4 linked regions of the Homo sapiens genome follow. The protein of the gene in region 3 purifies or fractionates together with the protein of the main gene of each other region. This does not show direct contact. Each region holds a gene or a part of one and is shown on either strand. Other genes may lie near its edges. The genes, in order: USP1, RNMT, KPNA1 and CHD8.

What was found.
Region 1: the proteins of KPNA1 (region 3) and USP1 purify together in Homo sapiens (co-immunoprecipitation; 6 studies listed by BioGRID and IntAct, with this or other methods). This does not show direct contact.
Region 2: the proteins of KPNA1 (region 3) and RNMT purify together in Homo sapiens (co-immunoprecipitation; 5 studies listed by BioGRID and IntAct, with this or other methods). This does not show direct contact.
Region 4: the proteins of KPNA1 (region 3) and CHD8 purify together in Homo sapiens (affinity purification with mass spectrometry; 6 studies listed by BioGRID and IntAct, with this or other methods). This does not show direct contact.

What each region holds. Positions count from the first base shown.
Region 1 is NC_000001.11:62,440,049-62,447,073, forward strand, and holds part of USP1 (ubiquitin carboxyl-terminal hydrolase 1), read left to right. Parts: intron 1-1,439; coding exon 1,440-1,560; intron 1,561-2,146; coding exon 2,147-2,251; intron 2,252-3,110; coding exon 3,111-3,271; intron 3,272-4,689; coding exon 4,690-5,381; intron 5,382-7,025. UniProt on the Homo sapiens protein: Negative regulator of DNA damage repair which specifically deubiquitinates monoubiquitinated FANCD2. Also involved in PCNA-mediated translesion synthesis (TLS) by deubiquitinating monoubiquitinated PCNA.
Region 2 is NC_000018.10:13,722,449-13,729,678, reverse strand, and holds the start of RNMT (mRNA cap guanine-N(7) methyltransferase), read right to left. Parts: upstream 3,007-7,230; 5' UTR 2,950-3,006; exon of another isoform or gene 2,814-2,949; intron 1-2,813. UniProt on the Homo sapiens protein: Catalytic subunit of the mRNA-capping methyltransferase RNMT:RAMAC complex that methylates the N7 position of the added guanosine to the 5'-cap structure of mRNAs. Binds RNA containing 5'-terminal GpppC.
Region 3 is NC_000003.12:122,462,921-122,469,945, forward strand, and holds part of KPNA1 (importin subunit alpha-5), read right to left. Parts: intron 4,510-7,025; coding exon 4,402-4,509; intron 1,122-4,401; coding exon 1,022-1,121; intron 1-1,021. UniProt on the Homo sapiens protein: Functions in nuclear protein import as an adapter protein for nuclear receptor KPNB1. Binds specifically and directly to substrates containing either a simple or bipartite NLS motif.
Region 4 is NC_000014.9:21,453,104-21,460,741, forward strand, and holds the start of CHD8 (chromodomain-helicase-DNA-binding protein 8), read right to left. Parts: upstream 3,021-7,638; 5' UTR 2,929-3,020; intron 1-2,928. UniProt on the Homo sapiens protein: ATP-dependent chromatin-remodeling factor, it slides nucleosomes along DNA; nucleosome sliding requires ATP. Acts as a transcription repressor by remodeling chromatin structure and recruiting histone H1 to target genes.

The sequences.
Region 1 (7,025 bases), on a different chromosome or scaffold from region 3:
ACATTTCTGTACTTTAAAAATTCTACAGTAAAGCAGCAGTGAACTTGGTTGACAACTCCAGTCTGACTTGATAGTCTGTAGCGGCACAAAAAAGTACGCTTCAGTGTACTTCTTAGTCAAATCTAGCAGTTTATAGTAGGAACAGCAAAACTGGTGGTTCCCCGTAGGAATCACATCGATAATGTTTAACTCATGTTAACACTGTGCTCAGCCATTTAGACTAACTTGGAGAAATATTTGTTGACTAAAATTGTCTTTCTGAGTTTAAATTTGATTATTTGTAGTGCAAAACATCTGTGTAGGGGTAAAAGGTTTTATATATATATATATATATATTTGTTTGGTTCAGAAGACTTGACAGTTATAAGACATTTTAAACTCTAGTCATGTAACTAGTCATACCTGTTGGAGGCATATGATTGCAAATTATAAAAATAAACTTTAAGTAATGCTTTTGATGCAAATAAATTATTTAGCTACAGAAAATAAATCAGAACAAAGTGGAATACTTTATTCCACCACCAGCAGCTCTAGCTGGAGTCTGTACTACTCCCTGTTTAACATATAGGCACTCTGCTGGGTGACTAAGGTGGATTTGGTCCCATGTGTTAATTTCCTAATAGCTATCAATAACCAGTTGAGGAGATTTGTGAGAGTGAAGCTTTTGTTTATCAGCATTCATACTTCTGAATACTTTGAGGTGCTAGAGTAATAATAGCTAGCAATCGTAAAATAAATGAAAATATTGGAAGGACCTAGTGGTTTTTTTGTTGTTGTTGTTAAAGAAGTAAAAGAATAGTAAACTTAAAGCATTTGTGTTTTGAGATGGGGTCTCCTTGTGTTGCCCAGGCTGGTCTTGAATTCCTGGGCTCGAGCAGTCCTCCCAAGTAGCTGGAATTACATGTCAATGCCCCCACACCCACATTCTGAACATTTTATTTTTAAGTGAGGGATAGCTACATATTTTTTTTTTTTTTACCAGCAGGAAGTCATATATAATTCTCTTCACAGACTTTCTTTCCTCTGAATTCTTATTAATAGAATCTTACTTAGTGCAGCCTCTCCCAAATATTGTCATGGTTAGTTTATTCCCAGGTTTCTGTTCAGTTAAACTATTTGATTAAAATGTCAAAGTAGATGAAACAAATCATAGTCTCTCAGTTCCTCAATTTTCTACTCTGTAAAATAGGATTAACATCCTTTTAAGGGAATTGTTCTGTGGCTTGTTATGTGTAATAATGTTTTTAAATGCTTTTAAAACTTTTATTCTGGGCATATAGCAATTTTTGAGCCTGTATTTCTTAAAATGTCATCTGAACAAGATTCACATACTTTTCAGATTATACAACTTTTGGGAAAAGACTAAATCTACAGAAGTAATATTTTCACCTTGTTTCTTTAAGATAACTACTTATCGTTCTCCCTTCTATATTTCATAGTGATCAAGTTGTTCCTGCAGCACAGTCTTCACCTATAAACTGTGAGAAGAGAGAAAACTTGTTACCATTTGTGGGACTGAATAATCTCGGCAATACTTGCTATCTTAATAGTATACTTCAGGTAAATTGACAATTTTGCTATATCATAAAGCTTTAGTAGGCAAAGATTGATGTAGCATTTAATGTTTTTGAGTTATTGGAGGACTTTAATGTCCATACTGTCTTTGCCTTTGATTGTTAATAAACCAGAATAGGCTAAAATAATAAGTTACATGTTATTAAACTTCCTTTGGGGTAAGAGAAAATGATAGACTAAATAAAGGTGGGATAGCAAAATTGAGTAGACCTTAAGTGGAAGGTCAAACCTTTAATTTCTTTCTCTGATTCCTGGTGCTACAGTGTGATATATGTCTTATCCCTTGGAAGTAACGTTGGCATTGTGTTGTGTGTCCGTTGGCGCTGTGTTGTGTGTCCTTGTAACCTTAAAGTCTTAGCAATATCTGCCCAGGTGCAGTGCTTTGTGCTAATGAGGGAAGACACTGGGCTACTACTGATGAAGTGGAGAACAAATTTTGACACAAAACTTAATCTCAGAATTTTAGGGTAATACATGTTAAAAGTGCTCTATAGAAAGCATGATGTTGTTTTAATGATTTTACGTGTATTGTTTGTTCAGTAAACACTTAAGACAATCTCACTTTTTATAGGTATTATATTTTTGTCCCGGTTTTAAATCTGGAGTAAAGCACTTATTTAATATTATTTCAAGGAAGAAAGAAGCTCTAAAGGATGAAGCCAATCAAAAAGACAAGGTAAGAAAAATAAAGAACAGAAAATAATGTAAAAAGCAAAAGTAAATTAATGGAAATTTACTTGCCTGGAAATGAAGAGGACTGGGGGGGTGGATGACAAAGATTATTTCTCTGTTAGCGAGCTATTGTCAGGCAATTATTTTTCATTCTTTCAAGGTGGCTAACTAGATAATTCCCTTTTACAATGTTTGCTCCTGTAATCTGTGTATCAAACTTTTGTTACTTGTATACTATATATTACTGTATACTATAATCACAATATGTTATACCCATGTACAACTTATTTACCCATTGTGTTTTCAAATTGAGTTAAAATTTAAATACAGTGTATTTAAAGAAATCTTTAACTTCCATAATTAAAAAACCATTGTAATTCACATAAATAGTAATTCATAATTCCTCTTAAAATTACAAAAAAGACCAGACGTGGTGGCTCATGCCTGTAATCCCAGCAGTTTGGGAGGTCAAGGTGGGTGGTGGATTGCTTGAGCGCAAGAGTTTGAGACCAGCCTGGGTAACATGGCAAGACCCTGTCTTTACTAAAAATACAAAAACTAGTAGGGCGTCATGGTGTGAGCCTGTAGTTCCAGCTAATTGGGAGGCTGAGGTGGAGGATTGCTTGAGCCCAGGAGGTTGAGGCTCCAGTGAGCCGCGATCAAGCCACTGCACTCCAGCCTGGGCGACAGAGACCCTGTCTCAAAATAAAAAAATAAAAAATAAGGCTTATTTGTACATCCCTTAAAATTAGTGCTATTATGCAACTTAGAAAATCTAGTATTCTTAAGTGAGACAAAGACAAAGGGGGAAGGTACTTAATTTGTTCATAAAATTATTGGTTTGTGTGTTTCTTTCTTGACAGGGAAATTGCAAAGAAGATTCTTTGGCAAGTTATGAATTGATATGCAGTTTACAGTCCTTAATCATTTCGGTTGAACAGCTCCAGGCTAGTTTTCTCTTAAATCCAGAGAAATATACTGATGAACTTGCCACTCAGCCAAGGCGACTGCTTAACACACTGAGGTATAGCCTATAATATAATTTTAGGGTTTCAATTTAGCTACTTGTTTATATCCTTGGAGGAGAATGACATGCGAAGAAACAGGAATAAAGGGCAAGGAAAGTAGAAACTCTAGGTCCACAGTCCTTTATATCCCAGAGACTCTGAATACTGGAAATTTTTTTCATAAATTTGGTGCTAAATTCGTTAGATCTGAACATATTATATGAGGCTTTTTATAGTCATTCATATTTATCTCTAACGTGAATATTCATACATGCTTCTATAGAAGTAGTAATGTGTTTAGTTATAGAGTACTCCCATATCAAGTCGGTGATAAATATTTTACTTATATGCCATATAATCATTGAATCTGAAAATGTCTGAATTTCTAAATGCGTGGTCCTAAGGATTTCACATTAAGAATTATAGGACTATATTCAAAATATGTGTAAGAACTGTAAATTCCAAATATTCTATTTTTATATGTGATTAGAGGAGAACTGTTGGCTAACTGGATTAGATTGCTTTTTGGTATTTTCTTAAAAATGAAACTTTACATATAAAATAGCCTTATTCAAATACAATTATAGGGCAAGTCTTTAAAACAATCACTTAAGCATTTAGTTTAAAAATAGAACTAGGTGCAATATATTGCTATACCTTAGTTAAGAGGTATTGTAGGCCGGTCACAGCTCACACTTGTAATCCCAGCACTTTGGGAGGTGAAGGTAGGTGGGTCATTTGAGGTCAGGAGTTCAAGACCAGTGTGGCCAACATGGTGAAACCCTGCCCCTACTAAAAATACAAAAATTAGCTGGGTGTGGTGGTTTGCACCTGTAGTCCCACCTACTCGGGAGACTGAGGCAGGAGAATCGCTTGAACCCGGGAGGCGGCGGTTGCAGTGAGCCAAGATTGCGCCATTGCAGTCCAGTCTGGGCAACAGATCAAGACCCTTGTCTCCAAAAAAAAAAAAAAAAAAAAGGCCATTGTAGCGTGGTGGCCAAGAGCGGGTTTGAATACTGGCTTTTCATCCTAAGTAGTTCTGTGACCTTGGGCAAGTTATTTAACCTGTCTGTGCCTTAGTGCTTGTATCTGTCAGTAATGGTGATAATAGTACCTCATAGGGTTATTGTGAAGATAATGTATACATAGGAGATAAAAAACATTTTGACTAAAACCTGGTGTATGGTAAGCATTATCTAAGTATTAGTTATTAATATATTTAGAAGAGGATCAAAGTATTATAATGAAAATAGGGTACAATTTACTCTTACTTTTAGTTACAGATAAGAAATTCCAAATTAGTGCTGAATAAATGTCTTGACATTTAAAAAATGAAATAATTTATGATTTTCCTTACATGAATTAATTTCTATATAGGCTTTATGTACTGTATCTTCAAAACTAGAATAGATGAAATGGAAATTTTTATTTATAGGGAACTCAACCCTATGTATGAAGGATATCTACAGCATGATGCACAGGAAGTATTACAATGTATTTTGGGAAACATTCAAGAAACATGCCAACTCCTAAAAAAAGAAGAAGTAAAAAATGTGGCAGAATTACCTACTAAGGTAGAAGAAATACCTCATCCGAAAGAGGAAATGAATGGTATTAACAGCATAGAGATGGACAGTATGAGGCATTCTGAAGACTTTAAAGAGAAACTCCCAAAAGGAAATGGGAAAAGAAAAAGTGACACTGAATTTGGTAACATGAAGAAAAAAGTTAAATTATCCAAGGAACACCAGTCATTGGAAGAGAACCAGAGACAAACTAGATCAAAAAGAAAAGCTACAAGTGATACATTAGAGAGTCCTCCTAAAATAATTCCCAAGTATATTTCTGAAAATGAGAGTCCAAGACCCTCACAAAAGAAATCAAGAGTTAAAATAAATTGGTTAAAGTCTGCAACTAAGCAACCCAGCATTCTTTCTAAATTTTGTAGTCTGGGAAAAATAACAACAAACCAAGGAGTCAAAGGACAATCTAAAGAAAATGAATGTGATCCTGAAGAGGACTTGGGGAAGTGTGAAAGTGATAACACAACTAATGGTTGTGGACTTGAATCTCCAGGAAATACTGTTACACCTGTAAATGTTAATGAAGTTAAACCCATAAACAAAGGTTAGTATAATTCTTAGACTTTGATAGGTAGAAGCATTAGCAGCTACAGAATTAGAATTTTCTCTTCCTAGATACATGTACAATATAATCTCTGGCTAAAATTGTTTCAAGAGAAGGAAATTTAACACTGAATGTGAACTATGGTGTTTTAAGTGCTATGCTTAGATTAGTGTGTGTGTATATATTGTATGCATATATATGTGTGTGTGTGTGTGTGTAATGTCATTAAAGTAATTTTAATTTATAGCTTATAAAGTAGGGAAGTTCGGCCAGGTATGTTAGCTCGCACCTGCAATCCCAGTACTTTGGGAGGCCTAGGCGGGCAGATCACCTGCGGTCAGGAGTTCAAGAGCAGCCTGGTCAACATGGTGAAACCCCGTCTCTACTAAAAATGCAAAAATTAGCCAGGCATGGTGGCGCACGCCTGTAGTCCCAGCTACTTGAGAGGCTGAGGCAGGAGAATCGCCTGAACCCGGGAGGTGGAGGTTGCAGTGAGCCAATATTATGCCACTGCACTCCAGCCTGGGGCGACAGAGCAAGACTCCGTCTCAAAAAAAAACAAATAATAATAAAGTAGGGAAGTTCAGTATATTTTAATGTACATTTAAGAGTACATTTCCCTTTATGCAGTGTTTGACATAAACTGATGAAGGACATTGCATTTAGTGAAATTTTAAAAGTAAAGACTAAGTACAGTCATGTGTTGCTTAACAACAGGGATATGTTCTGAGAAATGTGCTGTTTCATTGTGTGAATTTCACGGTGTACTTACACAACTAGATGCTAGAGCGTACTACACAACTAGCCTATATGGTATAGACCAGGGTATCTAATCTTTTGGCTTCCTTGGGCCACACTGGAAGAAGTGTCTTGGGCCACACCACACAGAATACACTAATGATAGCTGATGAGCCAAAAAAAAAAAAATCAAAAAAGTCTCATAATGTTTTAAGAAAGTTTATGAATTTGTTACGGGCTACAGGCAAGCTTTGCATGGCCTATTGCTCCTAGGCAACAAACCTGTATAGCATATAACTACTGAATACTGTAGGCAACTGTAGCACAATGGTATTTGTGTATCTAAGACGTATCTAAGCATAGATATGTAAACATAGGTACAGTAAAAATAATCATAGACTACTGTCATATGCGGTCCATTGTTAAATAATTGAAACGTTGGTAGGTGGTGCATAACTGTAAGTTACACGATACTTGAACTAGATTTTTACCTAGTTTTGTCCAGATCTACAGATATCAGGGAAAATGTGTAATATTGATATAGTGAATAGTTTTACCAAAAATGTCATCCTTATTCTGGGTTTATTCTATGGGGAGGTGTCTGTAGGAAGGGAGTTACAATACAACTGACTTTTTTTTATTTTTTATTTTTTTTATTTTTTTGGAGACAGAGTTTTGCTCTTGTTGCCCAGGCTAGAGTGCAATGGCATGATCTTGGCTCACTGCAACCTCCACCTCCCGGGTTCAAGCGATCCTCCTGCCTCAGCCTCCCGAGTAGCTGTGATTACAGGCATGCACCACCACACCCGGCTAATTTTGTATTTTTACTGGAGACAGGGTTTCTCCATGTTGGTCAGGCTGGTCTTGAACTCCGACCTCAGGTGATCTGCCCGCCTCAGCCTCCCA
Region 2 (7,230 bases), on a different chromosome or scaffold from region 3:
GGTAAGGGTTTCAATGGTTATTAGTTTTCATGACCCACCATTTGAGGTAACAAAATACCAAGAAGTACCAAATAGAACTGAATCAGAGAACAACAACAACAAATCAGAAAAGTGATTTTCAGAACAAATACTTAAAATGATTATCTAGAAAAACTGGATACCAACTTATCAAATTCCTATTTCTCCTCCTCTGCCATTGATTTCCTAATGGAAATTGGCTTTAAATTCAAATAAAGAAATGTGACTTATCTTTAGCTATATTTATTACCTAAAATTAATATTGAGATTTAAGCATGAATTTTACTTATGTCACTTTCATGATATCACAGATGTGACATAATAAAAACATAATTAGGTCAGAAGAAATGACACAGCATTCCAGATGACCACAAAAATAAGTAAGAACGTTTAAAACCAAGCATCATGTTTACAGCCAACTTGTTCTCAACAAAGGTGCCAAGAACGTACATAGTGAAAAGACAGTCTCTTCAAAAAACGGTGCTGGGAAATCTAGACCACTCTCTCTCACCATATGCAAAAATCAAATCAAAATGGACTGAAAAATTTAATACCCAAAAGTATGAAACTACTTGAAGAAAACATTGTGGAAATGCTTCAAGACACTGGTCTGGGCAAAGATTTTTGTGGTAAGACCTCAAAAGCACAGGCAACAAAAGCAAAAACAGACAAATGGGATTACATCAAGCTAAAAAACTTCTGCACAGCAAAGGAAACAAGAGTGAAGAGATAACCTAGAGAATGGGAGAAAATATCTGCAAAACCATTCATCTGACGGGATTCACAACCGGAATACAGAAGAAACTCAACTCAATAGCAAAAAAAAAGAAGCAATCCTACTACAAATGGGCAAAAGATCTGAATAGACATTTCTTAAAAGACACACAAATGGCCAACAGGTATATACGTAAAAAATGCTCAATATCAGTAATATCAGGGAAATGCAAGTCAAAACCACAATGAGATACCATCTCATCTCGGTTAAAACGGCTTTTATCAAAAAGATTTTTAAAAAATGGATGCTGAGGCCGTCACGGTGGCTCACACCTGTAATCCCAGCACTTTGGGAGGTGGAGGTGGGCAGATCACTTGAGGTCAGGAGTTCTAGACCAGCCTGGCCAACATAGTGAAACCCCGTCTCTACCAAAAACACAAAAATCAGCCGGGCATGGTGATGTGCGCCTGTAATCCCAGCTACTCGGGAGGCTGAGGCATGAGAATCGCTTGAACCCGGGAGGTGGAGGTTGCAGTGAGCTGAGATCAAGCCACTGCACTCCGGCCTGGGCGACAGAGCAAGGCTCCGTCACACACACACACACACACACACACAAAAAAAAAAAAAAAAAAAAAAAAAAAAAAAGATGCTGATGAGGATGCAGGATGCAGAAAAGGGGGAACACTTGTACACTGTTAGGGAGAACGTAAATTAGCACAGCCACTAATTTACATACTGGGAAAAGTATGATGGAGGTTCTTCAAAAAACAAAAAATAGAACTAGTGCTATTGAGATGAGTTTCTTCTATATTCTGGTTGTTAATCCCCTGTCCGATGAACAGTTTTGCAAATCTGGGTACAGATCCAAAAGAAGGGAAATCAGTATATCTAAGAAATATCTGCAGTCTCAAGTTTATTCACAATAGTCAAGATATGGAATCAACCTAAGCGTTCATCAACAGATGAATAAAGATAATGTAGCATATATACACAATGGAATATTAGTCATTAAAAAGAATGAAATCCTGTCATTTGCAACAACATGGATGAAACCGGATGTCATTATGTTAACTGAAATAAGCCAGGCACATGAAGACAATATCATGTTGTTACTCATGTGGGAGCTAAAAATGTGGACCTGATGGAGGTAAAGAGTGGATTGGTGGTTACCACAGACTGGGAAGGGTAGCAGGAAGAGGAGCGGGATGAAGAAGAGAAATTGGTTAATGGGTACAAAAAACCCCAGAAGAAATAAAATCTAGTGCCTGATAGTACAGTGGGGTGGACACAGTTAACAATAACTTATTGTGTAGTTCAAAATAGCTAAAAGAAAAATTGGAATGTTCCCAACATAAAGATAAATGTTTGAGATGACAAATATCCCAATTGCCCTGATTTAGTCGTTACACATTGTATGCATGTATCAAAGTATCACCTGCACCTGCAAATATGTGCAACTTCTATGTATCAATTTAACAAATTGGGGGAAAAAAAACCCAAACCAAACTCAAAGTGGAATAATGAAAACACTCCATAGGGAAGAGAGCTGTCCCTCAGAATCTTCAAGAAACCTTCGAAAGGTGGTCGACTGACATGGAGATGGACACGCGATAAATAACCACACGAACATTTCGACCCGGCTTTCCAGTCACACCTCCGAAGCAAGCTATGTCTCTGCGTCATTTCAGCTCCTCAGGGTACGAGCGAGCAGGCCGCCAGGGCCGCCGGGATAAAGCCCAAGCGGGATAAGCTCTAAGTCCCGACCCGCCCGCTTGACCCTCTACCACGGGGCCCGAGAGGACGCACAGAGGCGAGAAGGGACTTCTCCAGCCAAGTTCACCCCCTCCGTCATTAGCGCGGCCTGTTACTCAACCTCTGGTTCAGGTTTCCGAAGCGCCGCTGAAGACAAACCTGCGGACCCCACGCCCCTCCCCAGCACGGCCCTGGGGCGCGAGCTGGAGCAGCTCTTCGAGCTGCTTCTCCCACCCGGGCTCGCCCAGTCTGGAGGAGGAACAGCGCCCGCCCACCCCAAGGAGTTCCCATTTTCCTTGGGACTGAGGACACAAGGCAATAGACCCACGCGTTGGGTAGTGAAGCACAGGGCTAATGCGAAGTGAGCCCATGTCAGGGGTGGGAGTGCCAGTTCCACCCCTCCACGGCGGCCGAGGGACAAACACAAAGAAAGGAAGGGCCGGAGTTCCAGCCGTCACACTCACCAGCACAGCCAAACGCGATTCTGTTTGCGGAAACGGCGGCCCGCGCCACGCGTGTCTGCTTACGTCACTTCCGGAGGTGCGAGAGTCACGTGGAGACGGTCAGGCGAGAGTGCCGCGACGCACGTCCTCCGCGCCGGAACTACGAGTCCCGACGTGCCGCGCGCGGCATGCAGAAGCTTCACTGAGCGGGCACTGGAGGTCGCGAGCACGTTGCTAGTGGGCGCGGCTGGCGGGGCCGGGGGCGGCAGGGGGCTAGCGTCCGGCTGAGCCCGGCGGGTTCCTGCACGCGGACCCACGCTTTGTCGGGCTGCTCTGCTGAGTGACACCGCCGTGGCATCCGAGGAGCTGTGGTCCAGCCTGCGCGGCGGGAAGCGGCGGCGGCGGCTCCAGCGTCCTAAGAGGTAGCATGGGCCCAGGCCTCTGTGGGGCAGCGGGAGGGGTCTAGAGGGCACCTTCAACCCTGGGCGTGTGTCCGGGAGCTGACTCGCGGCGCGAACCCGGCAACTGCTCCGCGTGCGCCGCTCTTCGGGCTGTGGCAGTGTACGACTGCCAGACGGGTCGTCCACACTCGCCGACCCCACAGACCCCGGCGGCCGAGAGAGGTCCCCCCGCCCTTCCGGGTCGAGCCAGTGTCCTGGCAAATCTTGCTTTGGGACTGTTTTTCAGCCTCCTTTGCTGTAACCCTTCACCGTGTTCTCCCCCCTTCTTCCGAAGCCAGTTGAAGAGGGGCCCGGAAGCGCCCGCGTTCGGAATGGTTTTTAAAATTAGCAATTTCTTATTAGGGACTGGCAGACTGGTCCTTACCGCCGTGTTTGGGAAGCCACAAGAGGCCATTCTTACCTGTTAGATTCTGAGAAAAGGGACCGCCTATACCTCTTCTTGACAAATACCTAAGGATGCATTAGTCTGCGTTGGCTGAACTTGGCATGGTGTGGTTTGGGGGAGACAACACACTTTTTTTGGCCATCACCCCAGATTTCTACTGGGGAGTGAAAGCGCCTACTGTACTGAAACTCGAAAGCTCCATAGTTGAGGACTTTCAACCTGAGATCAGGGTCAAAACTACCTGTGGATAGATTATTGAAGCGTGTGCATATTAACGTCGTGCGTCAAGTCCCCACCTTCCAAGGTTGTAAAACTGATCAGATTTACAATCCGTCTTGAATTACTCTTTACCAAAATTGATCCATTTAAAACAGCTTTGAAAATGTGCTTTACCAGCCTTCCTTCTTGTCAGTAGGCACAGGTATATTAATGAATAGACCTGGCTTTGGGGAAGGCAGCATTTGCAGCGTTGTGCTTTCCAATCTAATCACTTCTAAATTGTGGGCATTAGCCCATTTGAGGTTACAAACTTTGAACCAAGAATGAGGCCTATTTTTCACAAATAAGGATGACCCATCAATTTCTGATGACTGCTTGTATTTGTTATTATATGAAATGAGGTAAGTTGAGAATTAATCTCATTACATGAATATTGACAACTGCAAAAGTGTAGGTCTTACAGATCGAATGCATTATAGGCATATACAAGCATTAGAACCAGGCAATTACATTCCCTGTTCCTGATGCTTAAGTTTCTTGAGATAATTGCTGTTGTAATTTTACAGAAAATGAGTGTAATTTTGACTTTTAAAAACATGTTTTAATGTTTTTAAACACCGGGTGCAGTGGCTCACTTCTGTAATCCCAGCCGTTGGGAGGCCGAGGCGGTTGGATCACGAGGTCAGGAGTTTGAGACCAGCCTGGCCAACATGGTGAAACCCCGTCTCTACTAAAAATACAAAAATTAGCCAGGCGTGGTGGCGCGTGCCTGTAATCCCAGCTACTCAGGAGGCTGAGGCAGGAGAATCGCTTAAACCCGGAAGGCGGAGGTTGCAGTGAGCCGAGATTGCGCCGTTGCACTCTAGCCTGGGCGACAGAGCGAGACTGTCTCAAAAAAAACTAAACAAAACAAAAAAAGTTATTAGATTAAAAGCCTCTTAACTATGTGTTTATGAAAACTCCACGATGATGGGATATATAGAGATTACATTTTTCAGTTTTTATAAAACTTAACTAGAAGTTGTGTAAATTCATTTGAGAATAGAGGGGAAGGATTCTTGAAAGCAGTTAATGTAAGTAAATGAGCCAGATAAAAATGATTTTAAAGTTACCATTGGTGTTATTTTTCCCTCATTATTGCCTGAGTAATCTCTGGTTTTCTGGACATTAAAATAATAATAGCTAATACTCGAGTACCTTTTAGGTGCCAAGGTTAGTGCTTTATTCATTTGCACTCGTTTAATTCTAACCGAACCCAGTGGTATAGTTATGAGTGTTTGTTTTACAGATGAGGGTTAAGTAACTTGGCCAAGATCATGCAGCTTGTTAAGTAGTGGGATCAAGATTTGGACCCAGGCAGTCTGGCTGATTGACCAGACTCTGCTAATAATGAAACAGTGCTGGCTAGAAGATCATACTCAGAACTGGACGTTGCCTAGCAAATAGTAGATTTTTCAGAAAGTGTTTTGATACTTCTTAATGCCTGGGTTATGATGTCCCGAGAGAAAATAGTTAGATAAGGATGTTATCTTGCTGGAATGTGAGCTCCACCAAGACAAGGAAAGGACCTGCAGGATTTATTTCAACCCATTTGTAAGAAAGTGAGAGTACTTCTCTCAGAGGTATAATTTTAAAGTGTGATTTCTGTTGTAGAGTTGAAGATCATATTTTTGAAACATAGAGATTGTTTTAAAAATGTAGAAACAATGTTATAGTTTCCTAAGATAGTGTTCTGTGAAGAGAGGTGGTTCATGGAAGCTTTGTTCCTCCAAATAGTTTTGGATGAAGGACTTTTCCTCTGTTCCACTCAGGAAAGTGTTCCTACTGAAATTTCATTGTCTTTCTGGAACAAATAAAATATTATTGTTTAAAAGGTTTTTCCTTCAGTTGAAAATAAGATTTTGTTGAGTAATACTGTGTGTGATGATTAGTTTTATTATGTCAGCTTAGCTAGGCTATAATACCTAGTTATTTAATCAGATACTAGTTTGGTTGATGCTATGATGGTATTCTGAAGACGTGGTTAACATCTATAATCAGTTGACCTAAACTAAAGGATATTACCCTAAATAATGTGGGTGGACCTCATTCAATCAATTGAAGGCTAAAAAAGCCAAAACTGAAGTGTCCTGAAGAAGACAGTATTTTCCTCAAGACTGCAGCATCAATTCCTGCCTAAGTTTCCTGTCTGTAGATCTACCCTACACATTTTGAAGTTGCTATCCCCTACAGTTGTGTGAGCCAGTTCCTTAAAATACCAATATCTCTGTATCTGTCTATATGTAGATGAAGATATTTATGTTTTTATCTACATCTATATATTTTTTCCTATCAGTTCTGTATCTCTGTAGAGCCCTGACTGATTCAAATTTGGGTGCTGAGAGTGCTTCTAGTGAGCAGAATCTTAAGGATGAGTTTTCTGAATTGATTATAGTGTTTCTGGAATTGGTTTTCCAAACTGATCAGATTCAAAGGCAGTAATGAGTATTCCCTGTAGAAAAGAGGGCACTGATAGTCCCTGGTGTGATATGGCAACAAAGATATGCAAAAGATCACTATTAGATACTCCCACTCATGCTTATAGACAAGATTCAGAATGATCAGGTATTTGATACCTTAGAACATTTTAATCGAATTAATGAGTACAATAAGATAGGCTGGTTGCTTTTAACTGTACTGGGTAAAGTGAGAAAAGAAAAGGATGATCCCAGCTACTCAGGAGGCTGAGGCAGGAGAATCGCTTGAACCCAGGAGGCGGAGGTTGCAGTGAGCCGAGATTGCACCACTGCACTCCAACCTGAGTGACAGAGTGAGACTGTCTCAAAAAAAAAAAAAAGAAAGGAAAGAAAAGGGGAGCTTAAGGCTTCAAATTCCCGATTGAAGCTCCACATAAGTGACCTGAAAAGTTTCTGTGTCTGCCCTAAAGAAACCCGTATCTCTTGTAGCTACAGAGCTGAGGTTGGTGAAAACCAAATCCAGAGTCTTATCCTGTAGGTGGCTGAATTACAGTGCTAACTGAATTCCCTTCTCACCTTGGTCTGCTATTAAAATGAGGGCATTGATTGGGAAGGAATGGGATCTGCACATTTGGAATAGGGCCATATGGGAACATCCTGATGAAGCTGGGGATGTTAAACTCCTAAATTTGACTCACTCTTTTTTGCCAGTAGAAGCAGTTCTTCCACCTCTGAGGAGGTTAACTCTGCTTTGCCTGAAGAACCTGTAATGACCTCCCTT
Region 3 (7,025 bases):
TATCAAAAAAAGTACTTACCAGCCGGGTGCGGTGGCTCATGCCTGTAATCCCAGTATTTTGGGAGGCAGAGGCAGACGGATCATGATAGGATATCGAGATCATCCTGGCCAACATGGTGAAATCCTATCTCTACTAAAAATACAAAAAAGGCCGGGCGCAGTGGCTCACGCCTGTAATCCCAGCACTTTGGGAGGCCGAGGCAGGAGGATCACAAGGTCAGGAGATCGAGATCCTGGCTAACACAGTGAAACACCGTCTCTACTAAAAATACAAAAAATTAGCTGGGCACGGTGGCGAGCGCCTGTAGTCCCAACTACTTGGGAGGCTGAGGCAGGAGAATGGCGTGAACCCGGGAGGCGGCGCTTGCAGTGAGCCGAGATAGCGCCACTGTACTCCAGCCTGGGCGACAGAGTGAGACTCCATCTCAAAAAAAAAAAAAAAATACAAAAATTAGCTGGGGGTGGTGGCGTGTAACTGTAATCCCAGCTACTCGGGAGACTGAGGCAGGAAAATCGCTTGAACCAGGGAGTCGGAGGTTGCAGTGAGCCAAGATCGCGCCCAGCCTGCACTCCAGACTGGCAACAGAGCCGTCTTTAAAAAAAAAAAAAAAGGTAATCACCCTGCCCACCAGTAAATGCATTCCTAACTTTCAGTGGTAAATTGCTAACATTAAAATCAACAATCATAACTCTTTCAAGGAGTATTTTTAAAGTCACTCTATAAAAAAAAGTCAGTCTCTCAATTTGAATTAACATGATACTGACTACTATTCACTATAAAGTCTTTTATAAAATAACCCAAAAATGAAAATAATTCTGTTTTCTGATCCTGGTGAGATCCCACAAATAAATAGGAAACTTAAAATTTAGGCATGGTTCACAATTACATATATGTCTGTATTTTTATTCTTTTATTGATAAAAATACTCCAACACAAATTACCTGTGGTATGAAAAACAGACTATGGGAAAGTAATTTTGTAGAGAGATGAAAAAATATACTGAACATATTCATAGCTCACCTTTTGAAAGCAGCTTCCTGAATTTCTGTGTTGCTGAAAGCTGTTGCTCTGGGCTTTTGGAAAATATCATTTCAATCATGTCAGAAGTGATGACACCACCCTGCGATCACAAACAAAAAGAACATATAATAAATTATCACCCTTAATTCAAAGGAAAGAAAGATAACAGATATCATGGCCAAGTTATTAAGTTAATCATACTTCCCCAGAAGTTACATAAAGGTAGGACAATCTTTACATATAGAAACGTGTAAGATTATTAATAATATAATGAAGCCAAATTCTTTGTCTATCATTAAAAAGCTCACAGTAGAAAGTGATCTTACTAGTAAATAAGACAAGGAGCTTATTGCTCTTCCCCTCCTTGCTCATCACATAGCTGGCTATTCTTTCTTATCAAAATTAAATGTTAAGTTTTAAAAGATGGCTTTTCAAGACCTCCAAGCCTAAAGTAGCCACTTTATCTCTATCACAGCACCATATTTCAATCGTATGCCCCAGCCCTTATTACACTCCCAGATATTTTTCTGTGTTCCTCCAGTATACTGTAACTTCCTTGTAAGCCCAAGACCCTGTCTGTCTTACTCTATCACTAAGGGCTGGTGTACTGTAAATGCTCTGCAATACTTATTGAGTGAGTAAATAGAGTGGTCCTGTATAAATCCAGCCACTGCCAAATTCAACAGCTGACTCTTAAACTTATTTAAAATTTCTTTCTTGTTTTATTAAAACTTTCCAGTTTCCCACTACCTTCTTGCTTTATTAGAATGTTTCCATTTCCCACCATAACTCATCCCCAGTATTAGCAGTTAATTTTCTTCTCAGGGTCATTTGTCAGAAAGAAACAAAGTTCTTATTTCATGAAGGGTAGCAGTCAACAAGATGAATTGTGAAGAAAGCTGCACTAAGCTGTAAATGCTAGATGACTGGTAAGCAATACCTAAGAATCCTCATAGGGGAATATATGACGCATTCTACTCAAGAATCAGAAAAGTAACTATTTTCAAAATTGCAAGACTGATTCCTAAATCAAGGTTTCTATATGATTTGTTATGAATATGTTTGCATAAACACATTCATATATATATATACACACATTAAGCAAATATCTTTTTCTTCCCTCTCTCATCCTCTTATAGCAAGCTGTACTGACTTTACATTACACTATTTAAGTATTGTTAACTTTACATTATAATATTTAAGTCACAGGCTATCAAGGACAGGAGTGAACATCACCCAAAGATTTTGCATCCTCTTCCGCAGAAGGAGTTAGTAAAGATGTGCCTCAACTTACAATGAATGGGGTTATGCCCCACTAATCCCATCATAAGTTGAAAATATTAAGTAAAAAGTACACTTAATACACCTAACCTACCAAACTTCATTGCCTAGCCTAGCCTACCTTAAACATGCTCAGAACACATACATTAGCCTACAGCTGAACAAATGATCTAACACAAAGCCTATTTTATAATAAAGTGGTTGACTATCTCGTGTAATTTACTTAATACTGTACTGAAAATGAGAAACAGAGTGACTGTATGGGTATTCAAAATACAGTTCCTACTGATTGCATATTGCTTTCACACCACTGTAAAGTTGAAAAATCCTGACTTGAACCCTCCTAAGTCAAGAACCATCCATACATTTTTAGTTGCACAAAGGAAAGTTGTAATCTGGCTGGGTGCGGTGGCTCACGCCTGTAATCCCAACACTTTGGGAAGCCAAGGCGGGTGGATCACGAGGTCAGGAGTTCAAGACCAACCTGGCCAATATGGTGAAACCCTGTCTCTACTAAAACTACAAAAAAATTAGCTGGGGGTAGTGGCGCACGCCTGTAGTCCAAGTTGGCCTCATCCAATCAGTTGAAACCCTTAAAAGCAAAGACTAGGTTTTCTGAAGAAAAGGGATTCAACAACATCAACTCTTAACCTGAATTTATAGTGGGCCAGTGTGCCCTACAGATTTCACACTTGCCAGCTCCCAAAGACACGAGCCACTTTCTTAAACTAAATTTCTTTCTCTCATTGGTTCTGTTTCTCTGGAGAACCCTAATACAATCCATAAAACACTTTATATTCACTTAACACTCTCTTCTTAAAAAAATTGGAAAGACTGGCTTTCTGAAGGGCCTAGAAACTTTCATCACAAAATGATGGCATTGGCTATGTCTGTATGAATTCCAAAGGAAATAATACTACCCTCCCAACTCTCAAAGAAAGCTGGTTCATGTAAACTGGAGATCTATGAAATGAAATAAAAATAAAAACTACAAAATACTATGAATAGTATGCCACCATTTACCAAAAAAAAAGGTGGGGGAGAGGAGAACATTTTAATATACAAAAGTTCTCAGAAAGAATAAATAGGAATTTAGTAATACTAGTTGCCAATGGAGAAAAATACTAGGTGGCTAAGCGGAAGAAAGATTTTTCTTCATTTTTTTTAATTGTACTTTTTTTGTTACTACAAACAACAGTACCTTTTAGGAGATAATTTTCTTTTTAAAAAAACTGTGTGTGTGTACACATATATATATATGTACACATATATAACCTATTTTTAAAATTACGTAATTACAATACTCTAGAAATCTAGATAGGTCTAATCCATACAAATAAAGCATGACTTTTATCTCTTCATGTTAACTTCAAAAAAGTAACAAAATGGTTTACAACAGAAAAATCCAAGAGTTCTGATGTGGAATCAAGTTTTTAAATCATACAAACAGGTCAATTTTGTAAATCAATAAAAAATCATTATTTTCTTTAAAGTATCTCTTATGGCTTGGTGTGATGGCTCAAGCTTGTAATTCTAGCACTTTGGGAGGCCAAGGCAAAAGGATCACTTGAGGCCAGGAGTTCACCTGGGCAACACAGTGAGATCCTGTCTCCACAAAAAATTTAAAAATTTGCCAGTCATGGTGGCACATGCCTGTAGTCCCAGCTATTTGGGAGGCTAAAGCAGGAGGATCACTTAAGCCCAGGAGTTCGAGGTTGCAGTGACCTACGATTGCGCCACTGCACTCCAACCTGGGCAACACAGCAAGACCCTGTCTCTAAAACATAAATAAATAAATAAATAAATAAATAAATAAATAAATAAATAAATAAGGTGTCTATTCTTATTCAACTTTTAAAGAGTAATTTTATCTTATAATTAGCTTGTTAAGTTTTTAGAGCAGAATTAATCTTTATAATTTAACTGCACTTTATCCAAAATATAATAAACATTTAATGAACCATGAGATTAAGCATATTCTTTTTAAAAATGAAATGCCAAGTACTTTTTGTAGCCATCTAACCTTTTTTAAAACTCAAAAGGAAATCTACATCTCATATCTTCATCACAAAAACACTGAAAAGAGTTCATTATCTTACTGGTGCCATCTCCATGTTACTAATCTGAGCCTCATGAAAGCCTCCATCTGACATAACTTCTTCTTCTGTTTCTTCTTCTGCTGTAGCAACATTTCTCCGCTTGAATAACTGAAAGATAAAAGATTGGTAGCAATGTAAATGTAAATTCTAACACAAGGGAGTTCAACATTCAAATACTAGGCACCCCATTCAAAGTGAAGTCTTTGAAAATCATTTTTAAAATTCTAAAGCTGTCAGCTTTTACTGATGAGTAACCATTTCAGATTTCTCCATAGTCTTATAATCAAATATAATTAACTATTACAACATGCTATAAACAACACTTGATAATGTAAAACTTACTAAGAGAGGTCTGACACTATATGACATTAAAAAAAAAAAGGTTGGAAAAAGGAGCTGGGTCATGCTTGGCCATTTTCCTCATCCCTTTATGTAAAGTATACATCAGGACAGTCCTAACAATGTACCAAGGAAAATGAAAATAAAAACTATGTTCAAATGACTTAATACTTCCCTCCTAATCTCCAAAGATGGTGGACTGTGGCTTCTGACCTTCCCAACCTATCCAGCAACCAGTGGCAACAAATGATGACTGCTTAAGCACTACCTTTAAAGCAGCTCCGTTAATGTGTATAGGCAAAGGAGACTAGTTCTCTCCAAAGTCAGCCAACGAGGGTGATTACCATTATATCCTTATGAATCCTGGGCAGCACATTTATTCATCAAGCCATGATGGAGTAACAGTAACTTACCCTCTCTCACGCTGAACAACTAAAAACAGACAAAATACATAAAATAATGTTTCAGCCATTGGACAATAAAAACCACAGAGTAGTGATATCTCAGAAAGAAAAACCCAAGATAAGCCCCAATACTGCCTCAGATTACTATGCAGACAGTTCCAGGCTGCAGTGCAGGAAAGGTAAACTCAACCAGAGTTTAGATGCTCCTTGGATTTGAGAAAACACAGTTCAGAGCTGAGAAGGCCAAGAGACCTAAAATTCATAACGCAGAGTACAACACAAAAAGAACACCCAAGATCTACAGGAGGTTCTCTCTGAGATTTAACTTAATACTAATCAGCACATAATCATATTCTTTCAGAAGACAGAAGCAGAGACAGTACTTCTCAACTCATTCTAGGAGATCAGCATTACTCTTAATACCAAAACCACCTACCAAAGGCCTATTTAACAGTAGTTTCTTTTACCCAGTACATGTCCAGCTATCAAGAAAAAATTACAAGGCATACTAAAATATAAAAAACACATTTTGAAGAGACAGAGCAAGTATCAGAACCAGATTCAGCCACGGCAGTGATGTTGAGATTATCGGACCAAGAATTTAAAACTACGATTAATATGCTAAGGGCTTTAAATGGATAAAGTGGACAGCATACAAGAACAGATAGGCAATGTAAGGAGAGAGATGGAAATTCTAAAAAAGAACTAAAAAGAAATGCAAGAGATCAACAACAACAGAAATGAAGAATGCCTTTGATCGACTTTTTAGTAAACAAGACACAGCTAAGGAAATAATCTCTGAGCTTAAGGAAATCTCATTCGAAATCTTTAAAACTGAAAAGAAAACAGAAAAAGGACTGACACAAATAGAACAGAGTATCTATGAACTGAAACAACTACAAATGGTATAATAAACATGGAATGGAACTATCAGGAGGAGAGGAAAGAACAAAAGAAATATTTGACACAATAATGACTGAGAATTTCCCCCAAATTAGTATCAGACACCAAACTGTAGCAGGCCATGTCTCATTAATGCAGGGCTCCATAACAACTGTTTCAGTACTGACTGACTGGTTAAGTTAAATATTAAAAGCTAAAAAAAGCCAGTGCCCTTATACAAAGGCTGGAATCTAACAAAAGCCCACCAAGAGTTTTGCCTAGGCCTTTCCTGGGCCTTAAAGCATAACAAAGAAATTCCCCAGGCCTCCACAAACAAGTTTATTGGATGTCTGAAAGAACTCCCCAAACCTCCACGAGCAGGAGACAAGATAAGGGTAATCACCTCAGCACCTAGATTAAGTAAATTTACTGAGACTCCAGAGGAAGGTCTTCAAGACTCAGACCTTAGTTACAGATTAAAAGAAGTTTCATCACTTATGTCTTTAGATGAATACACACTTACACGCAGACATATAGCTTAAAAGGTATATAATATCTGGAAAACTTTGTAATTTCGAGTTGGTCTGGCAATAATTTCTAGGCCTTCTCCCTGTAACCAGGTACAAAAATAAAAACTCTCTTCCTCCCCAGTTCATCTGCATCTTGTTATTGGGCCATGAGAAACAGCAGCCCAACCCAGTTTGGTCTGGGAACAAAACCACTGGAAGCCCAGAGAACACCAAGCTGGACAAAGGCCAAAAAAATCCCACTACACCTAGGGATATCATTTTCAAACAACAGAAAATCAGAAATAAAGGAAAAACAATCCTAAAAGACAAGGGTAAAAACACTGTACTTAACACATGAATAAAGATAAGAATGATAACCACACATGCCAGAAGAAAGTGAAGTGAAATATTTGAAGTGTTGAGAGAGAAAACCACCAACCTAGAAACTCTGAACCTTGCAAAATCATCCTTCAAAAGTGGAAACAAAAAT
Region 4 (7,638 bases), on a different chromosome or scaffold from region 3:
TTCAAGACCAGCTGGGGCAAGATGGCAAGACCCCGTCTCTTAAGAAAGAAAGAAAGACAACTCTCATTTGGGTGCTAGGTACCAAAGAAAGACCACATCTTGAAAATTAGATACCCTAAAAGGTTTCAATTTTCACGAGGTCAGGAGTTAAAGACCAGCCTGGCCAATATGGTGAAACCCCGTCTCTACTAAAAATACAGAAATTACATTCCCTAAAAGGTTTCAGCTAAACAGAAGCAAAAGTGTACAACGTCAGTGAATTAAGTGAAAAGGAAAGTGAGCAAAATCACAGGAAGATGAAAAGATCACCAACTTGGTGAGACAAAAGAATAAAAGATCATAGATCATGTAAGAGGGGATATAAAAAGTTAAAGTGAGATAAGAAACATGATAGTCTGTCAATGAATCAAATGCTAAAGGTAAAATAGTAAATATTATACCACAATGGTCACAGTAATGTAAGGACAGGTCATGCGAAGACCTGCAGATCAAGGACTGGCTCAAATCCAACTCCAGAAGTAGAGAGATTCTAGAGGTGAAAGTGGAGACTCGAGAGAAATGTTTGTCTTCTGTTTTCCTCCCAAGTATTAGGCTCAATGTAAGCTCAGAAGATAGCTTAACTCTTCCAGAGCTGTAGACAAACAGTTCACTAAAGCATTTAGCATTCATCTGAATGTTACAGTCCTTTCACATATGAGAATATCAAATCTTATTTCTTCAGTAAGCAAACACAGTTTTGACACCCACAACTTAATCTTAAGTGGTAATTTTGCTTAGAAAAGTGGCTCATGCCTGTAATCCCAGCACTTCGGGAGGCCGAGGCGGGAGGATCACGAGGTCAGAAGTTCAAGACCAGCCTAGCCAATATGGTGAAACCCCGTCTCTACTAAAAATAAAAAAAAAAATTAGCCAAGCATGGTGGCGGGCGCCTGTAATCCCAGCTACTCGGAAGGCTCAGGCAGGAGAATTACTTGAACCTGGGAGGCGGAGGTTGCAGTGAGCCGAGATCCTGCCACTGCACTCCAGCCTGGGTGACAGAGCAAGACTCCGTCTCAAAAAAAAAGAAAAGAAAAGAAAAGAAAAGAAAAGAAAAGAAAAGAAAAGAAAAGAAAAGAAAACTGACAAAACCAAAAGAGCAGATGCACAGGACAGATCAAACATGGAGAATACAAAAACTGTTCAAGTACTCATACACTGTTCCATTATATCCCTTATCCCAATCCATTACTCCTTTGCTATCCTCTGGCTGTGTCGCCCAGGCCGGAATGCAGGGGCACGATCTTGGCTCACTGCAATCTCCACCTCCAGGGTTCAAGCGATTTTCATGCCTTGGCCTCCCATGTAGCTGGGACTACAGGCACGCGTCACCATGCCCGGCTAATTTTTTTTTGTATTTTTTGTACTTTTAGAGACGGGGTTTCACCATGTTGGTCAGGCTGGTCTCGAACTCCTGACTTCAAGTGATCCGTCCGCCTCCACCTCCCAAAGTGCTGAGATTACAAGCGTGAGCCACTATTTCAGTTTTAAACTTTCTCCTAAGCCTGTCTCTTCAAACTTGCCTACTCTCTCTTTGGCCAATATCTTTCACTTGCCTTCAGATCCACTGACACGCCTCTCTTGCAGCAGAAGGTCTTCTTACATGGAAAATGTTTTTCTTATCATAACTCTTTTTTTAAGGGTTGGGATAATTCCAAAGTACTTGAAATAAGTTTCTCATATCTTGCTCTATGAGGTTGACTAGAATTTGTTCTGAAACCTATTGGATGACCAATACAAAAGAAATTCCTAAGCAGAAGACACGATCTAATTAACTAACACAGGACACGATTCAAATCACAAACTCACTTTCGATATGTAATGTGCCCCACACCAGATGACTTCAGCATATGCTAACCTAGGCTGAGAATCCTTGACTGAGTCGACAAACTCAGAAAAGCATGGAGATGAAACGATCTGTAGACGCCGCTGTGATGGTAGGATGCAGCAGACACTGATAAGGCAGCTCCCCTGGCTTGTGTTTGGGGCGCTCCGCTGTTTATTCTTTAATAGAAAAAGACAGAGTTCTAAATCTTTGACTTCTGGCTCACTTTGCTTAGCCATACGAAAGAGATGGGTCCACTATATACCTTTTCTGTGAAGACCCTAACCGCTTCAAGACTGTCCCTTAAAAAGCAAGAGGCTGCTGCATTTATACAGCTGCTGCAGGGAAATTCCCTGCGACACTAGAGACAGGTAAATAAACTGCATTCGTTCCAAAGCAGGGGGAAGGGTCTTCTATCAGTGACGAGTTTACATAATGCAACGGAAAACCAGTGAGCTCTGCAGACCTGTCAAGGAGGATGCAAGGCTTGAGCTCCTCTCTTCCCACCATCTCTAAACATTCTCCAACAGCCTGCTCTTCACTGCCAGGAGACCCACAGAACTTACACCTGAGAATGAGTAACAATCTGCTTACGCTTACCCCATGCTTTCCTACCCACCTTTATTATTAAAATACAGAAGAAAAAAAAATAAAAAGAAGTAGAAAACCCTAACCACCTATTTCTGAATCCAAAGTATGGAGTAACCAAACGGGGCCGAGGAGTTTTCCCTTCTCTGAAGAGAGGAGAACAAGGCGCCGCCTCCAATCTACACTACGCCCAGTAATGCAATGACAAGCCCTGAAAACTCCACAGCGTCCCAAGCAGTCCCTCGCGGCTCGGCCCGGCTCGGACCCCGCGGCCCGGCAGCCACCCTCTCCCCCGGCCTCTCACAAAGGAGACTGGTTCAGTCCGGAGCATCACCCCGCACCTGATCCCTCACAACTGGGGGGCGAGCAGGGGGTGGAAGAGAGAGGAGAAGGAGTTACTTAAATCAAATCTCTGAGAGCCTCAGCTTTTGCTGACTCCTGGCCCAGCACTGAGGAGCGGGTGCGAGCGGGAAGCCTACCTGTGCAAGTCCTGGTACTTCCTTTCCAGGCAGCGTTTCAACTCACCCTCTCCGAGAACAAGGCGCCTTCCGGCGGAGCATGGCCAGCCCTCGCCTCAATCTAGCTTGCTAGTAGTCCATTCTCCCTAGGCTCCGCCCCCCTGCGCTCCCATCCGCCAATGGCAGCACCGAAGCCCGGCCTCTTCCAGCGAGCTAGTGTGAGCGCCATCCAGGAAGTCTCTTGAGGGTGGAAGGTCCTAGGAGGATGAGAAGGGTACGTAGGCGACCACAAATATGCCTGATTGAAAATAAAATCTGGCGGCGGCTCGCCTCTGACGACTCAGTTCACAGGCGGCCAGGCCCCTCGGCATCTTTTTTTGACCCCCGCCATTGGGGGCGCTGTGAACTAAAACAACACTTAGTTACCTACTTCTGGGAAGCCATCTTGGCTCGGACTCCGGGACTGGGTGAGAGTGCTTAAAGAATGTGAAGACCCTGTCGGTGTTCTGTCCGACTATCTAGGTCCAGCCCGAACATACTCTGCTGTATACACTTAGGAGGCCCCTCAGTCACGACGTGAAACCCTGGAGTAATGCCGTATGTGGTTACGGGCAACAACCACCACCACCCTCTCACTTAACTGTAGGAGTAAAGCAATTTTAACAAATCAAATAAGCAAAAATTAATTCTTCTAATGAGAGTGAAAGTTGCACTTTCCTAGGGTAATCCTTTATGGACACCTCACTCAAAATATCAGGACATGTATCTATTATAGGTGCTACTAAGCTTTAGGATTCACTGCAAATTTTCCAGTAGGGGCACTGTGAATCAGTTGGAAATCAAGAACAGGACTTAAGGAGGAATTCCTTTTTTTTTTTAAAGGCCTAATTTTTTTTTTTTTTTTTGAGATGGAGTCTCGCTCGGTCACCCAGGCTGGAGTGCAGTGGGGCGATCTCGGCTCACTGCAACCTCTGCCTCCCGGGTTCAAGCAATTCTCCTGTCTCAGCTTCCTGAGTAGCTGAGACTACAGGCTCCCGCCACCACGCCCAGCTAATTTTTGTATTTTTAGTAGAGACGGGGTTTCGCCATGTTGGTCAGGCTGGTTTCGAACTCCAGACCTCAAGTGATCCGCCCACCTCGGCCTCCCAAAGTGCTGGGATTACAGACATGAGCCACCATTCCTGGCCAAGAAATCTTTTTTAAAGTTGTGAGTGAGGGAATCCTTCCAGATTATTAAAGGAATTTCTCAAGGAGTAACATAATTGCATGGTCTTACATGATAGGAGCTCAGAGACATCAAGAAGTCATATGAGTGATAAGACTCGGCCTTAAGCTGGGCGCAGTGGCTCACGCCTGTAATCCCAGCACTTTGGGAGGCTGAGGCGGGTGGATCGCCTGAGGTCAGGAGTTCGAGAGCAGCCTGGCCAACATAGTGAAACCCCGTCTCTAGTAAAGATACAAAAAAAAATTAGCCGGGCGTGGTGGCAGACACCCATAATCCCAGCTACTCGGGAGGCTGAGGCAGGAGAATCGCTTGAACCCAGGAGGCGGAGGTTGTGGTGAGCCAAGATCTCACCACTGCACTCCAGCCTGGGCAACAAGAGCGAAATTCCATCTCAAAAAAAAAAAAAAAAAAAAAAAAAAAAAAAAAAAGACTTGGCCAAATACATTTCCCTGTGTATCAAAATCTGTCAGCCAAGACAGGCGCGGTAGCTCACGCCTGTAATCCCAGCACTTTGGGAGGCCGAGGCGGGTGGATCACCTAAGGTCCGGAGTTCAAGACCAGCCTGACCAACATGGAGAAACCCCGTCTCTACTAAAAATACAAAAGTAGCTGGGTGTGGTGGTGCATGCCTGTAACCCCAGCTACTCAGGAGGCTGAGGCAGGAAAATCACTTGAACTCGGGAGGCGGAGGTTGTGGTGAGCCTAGATCATGCCATTGCACTCCAGCCTGGGCAACAAGCGGGAAACTCTGTCTCAAAAAAAAAAAAAAAAAAAATCTGTCAACCAAATTCTCTCCTGGCTACTGCTGCCATTATATCAATTTGATGTTAGTATTAAGATTTATCAGAACAATGTGTTTGTCTGTAAATGCATATACAGATATAACCTTAATTATTAATAGTTTCTAGGATGAGAGCCTATTATCCATCTGGTACAGAATAGACCTGTCATCAAAGGAGCTATAGATATTATGGAAATGGGAACAGGTGTGCCTGAACCAATTTCTGGTACCTACACTGATCTTAGTATGATTTCCAATGGTCTTGGCCTTCAAAAACCAATGGACATTGGTAAGACTATAGATGGAAAAAAAAAAAAAGTGGACATTATTTCATAACTACCATTCTTCATATGGGGTGGCATATCCACTTTTTATAATTCTTCATGACCACTTCACTCAGAATACAGATGATTTTGCCCAGATACTTTTTTTTCTCATGCTTCCCTTACAATTGGTGCAATACCCAAGTACAGAAGGTCATAAGTCGGCTTGGTTAATAGAACAAGATATGGGCATTAATATTAAAAAACTGTGCTCCAAAATATCAAAATGGTATCCTTTATTGACTCTGAAAGCAGTAGCTCTAGGCAGAATGCTGTCTTTGACCAATCCTCTAATGCTTCTCAATTGCTAAAGATTGTTTTTTTGGGTAGTAAAAAAAAAAAAAACAAAAAAAAAACCTTCTGTACAGAAACTAGTTTTTATTACTTTAGTTTTCGCCCAGAGGTAAGGGGGCAGGCTAACTCCAAGTTCAACAGCTTCAAATCCTTTTTGGAATCAGATAGGATTTTAAAAACAAAACAAAAGCATAACCAAAGCAATACCCCAAATGTCTTCCAACTTCCTGTGGTGCACTGTCAACTATTACTACTACTACTGGGGTCAGAATCGAGTATAGCATGAATCCCAAAGAGGCTTCTTCATTATCTTTGATTTAATTCCCTGAGAGGAGAGTATCTACTAATGTTTGGGATACAATTAGAAATGACACATGGAGTATGAATAGCTTTGATACATGCATATATTTAATAATGAAACAATTCATCAACAGCAAAAAGAAAGTAGAAAAATTCGTAAGACCTCAGGGCTGTGGAAGAGAACGGGACATCAAGGAAAAAAGATATATATAGCAACCAACCCAGAAGGCTGCATGATGAGTGAAGCAAAGGCAAGTTTGGCTAAGATAGTATTATATGCTCTGAAAAGAGAATGGCTGGATAGGTACCCACTTATGTGACTGCTTACTAGCAGGCAGCCTTACTGTATGCCTCATGGAATGGAGGCAAAAAGCCAGGGAAAGGTGGGAGGGGAGAAGGAAGAGAACTGTATAAAACCCAGGGTAAACAAATGAGTGGGGCAGAATTACAGAGAGAGGACTCTAAAGTCTTTTGTTTCCTTGAAAGTCTAAAATAAACCTTAAGTTTTTAACTATGTCAGTCAAATTCAATGAACACATAATGAGTAGCACTAGGCACTGTAAAGGAATGATAGGGGGAATAATTTATAAAAATAAAGGAATGACATGGATCCTGCTCTCAAGGAGCTTACAACTTATACGGAAAGACAAGATTCCACACAAAAACAACTGCAAACCATATTTACATAGTAACATACATAAAAATAAATATACATATAAATAGACATATGAATAACCAACATATGAAAACTAAGGAATATTGTGTTAATAACTGCTTAGCAGTACCTAAGTCTGTTACTAAAGAAAAAATTTTTGGACTTTTAAGTATAATTAGTGGAGAGTAGGGCATGTGCAAAGGTATGGAACTAGGAATAAATATGTCACATTCAGTAAGTAGATTAGCCTGATTGGAGTAGAAAGTCTAGGTCTAGTTAAGAAGGGAGTTTGATGAAACAGTAGAAGTCTATCTGGTGAAAGACACTACAATGTTAGATCTGGCCCCTAAAATAAAATGAACAGGGAACAAATGTTTTCTTTAGGTAATAATAAGTGGCCACATGTCCCTGACCAACTTCACTGCTCTTAAAAGTTTTGAAGTTACACTAAGAGATAGAAGCTAATAATAGGATAGTAGAGAAGTACTCAGTGCTCTTGGGCAAGTAGAGGAAACTGCCTTCTACAAGAATTCTTAGGAAGTGGCAAGCAGACACCCAAAGGCAAGGAAGAAAAAAACTCAATGAAATTCCGAGGCAGAGGATCTATCAACCAAAGGCCAACTAGATCTAGGTAATTGCAAGTGTTCAAATAGAATGTCTTTGACCCTAATTCTTAGTGGGAAGTGGATTGTATATGCTTACGAAATTATTTATTTAGGCCAGGCACGGTGGCTCACACCTGTAATCCAGCACTTTGGGAGGCCAAGGTGGGCGGATCACGAGGTCAAGAGATCAAGACCATCCTGGCCAACATGGTGAAACCCTGTCTCTACTAAAAATACAAAAATGAGCCAGGTGTGGTGGCACATGCCTGTAGTCCCAGCTACTCGGGAGGTTGAGGCAGGAGAACTGCTTGAACCTGGAAAGTGGAGGTTGCAGTGAGCCAAGATCATGCCACTGCACTCCAGCCTGGAGACAGAGTGAGACTCCATCCCCCCAAAAAAAAAAAAAAAAAAAGAAAAAAAAAATTATTTATTTATTTGAGACAGAGTTTTGCTCTTGTTGCCCAGGCTGCAGTGCAATGGCGTGATCTTGGCTTAGCGTAACCTTCACCTCCTGGGTTCAAGCGATTCTCCTGCCTTGGCCTCCCGAG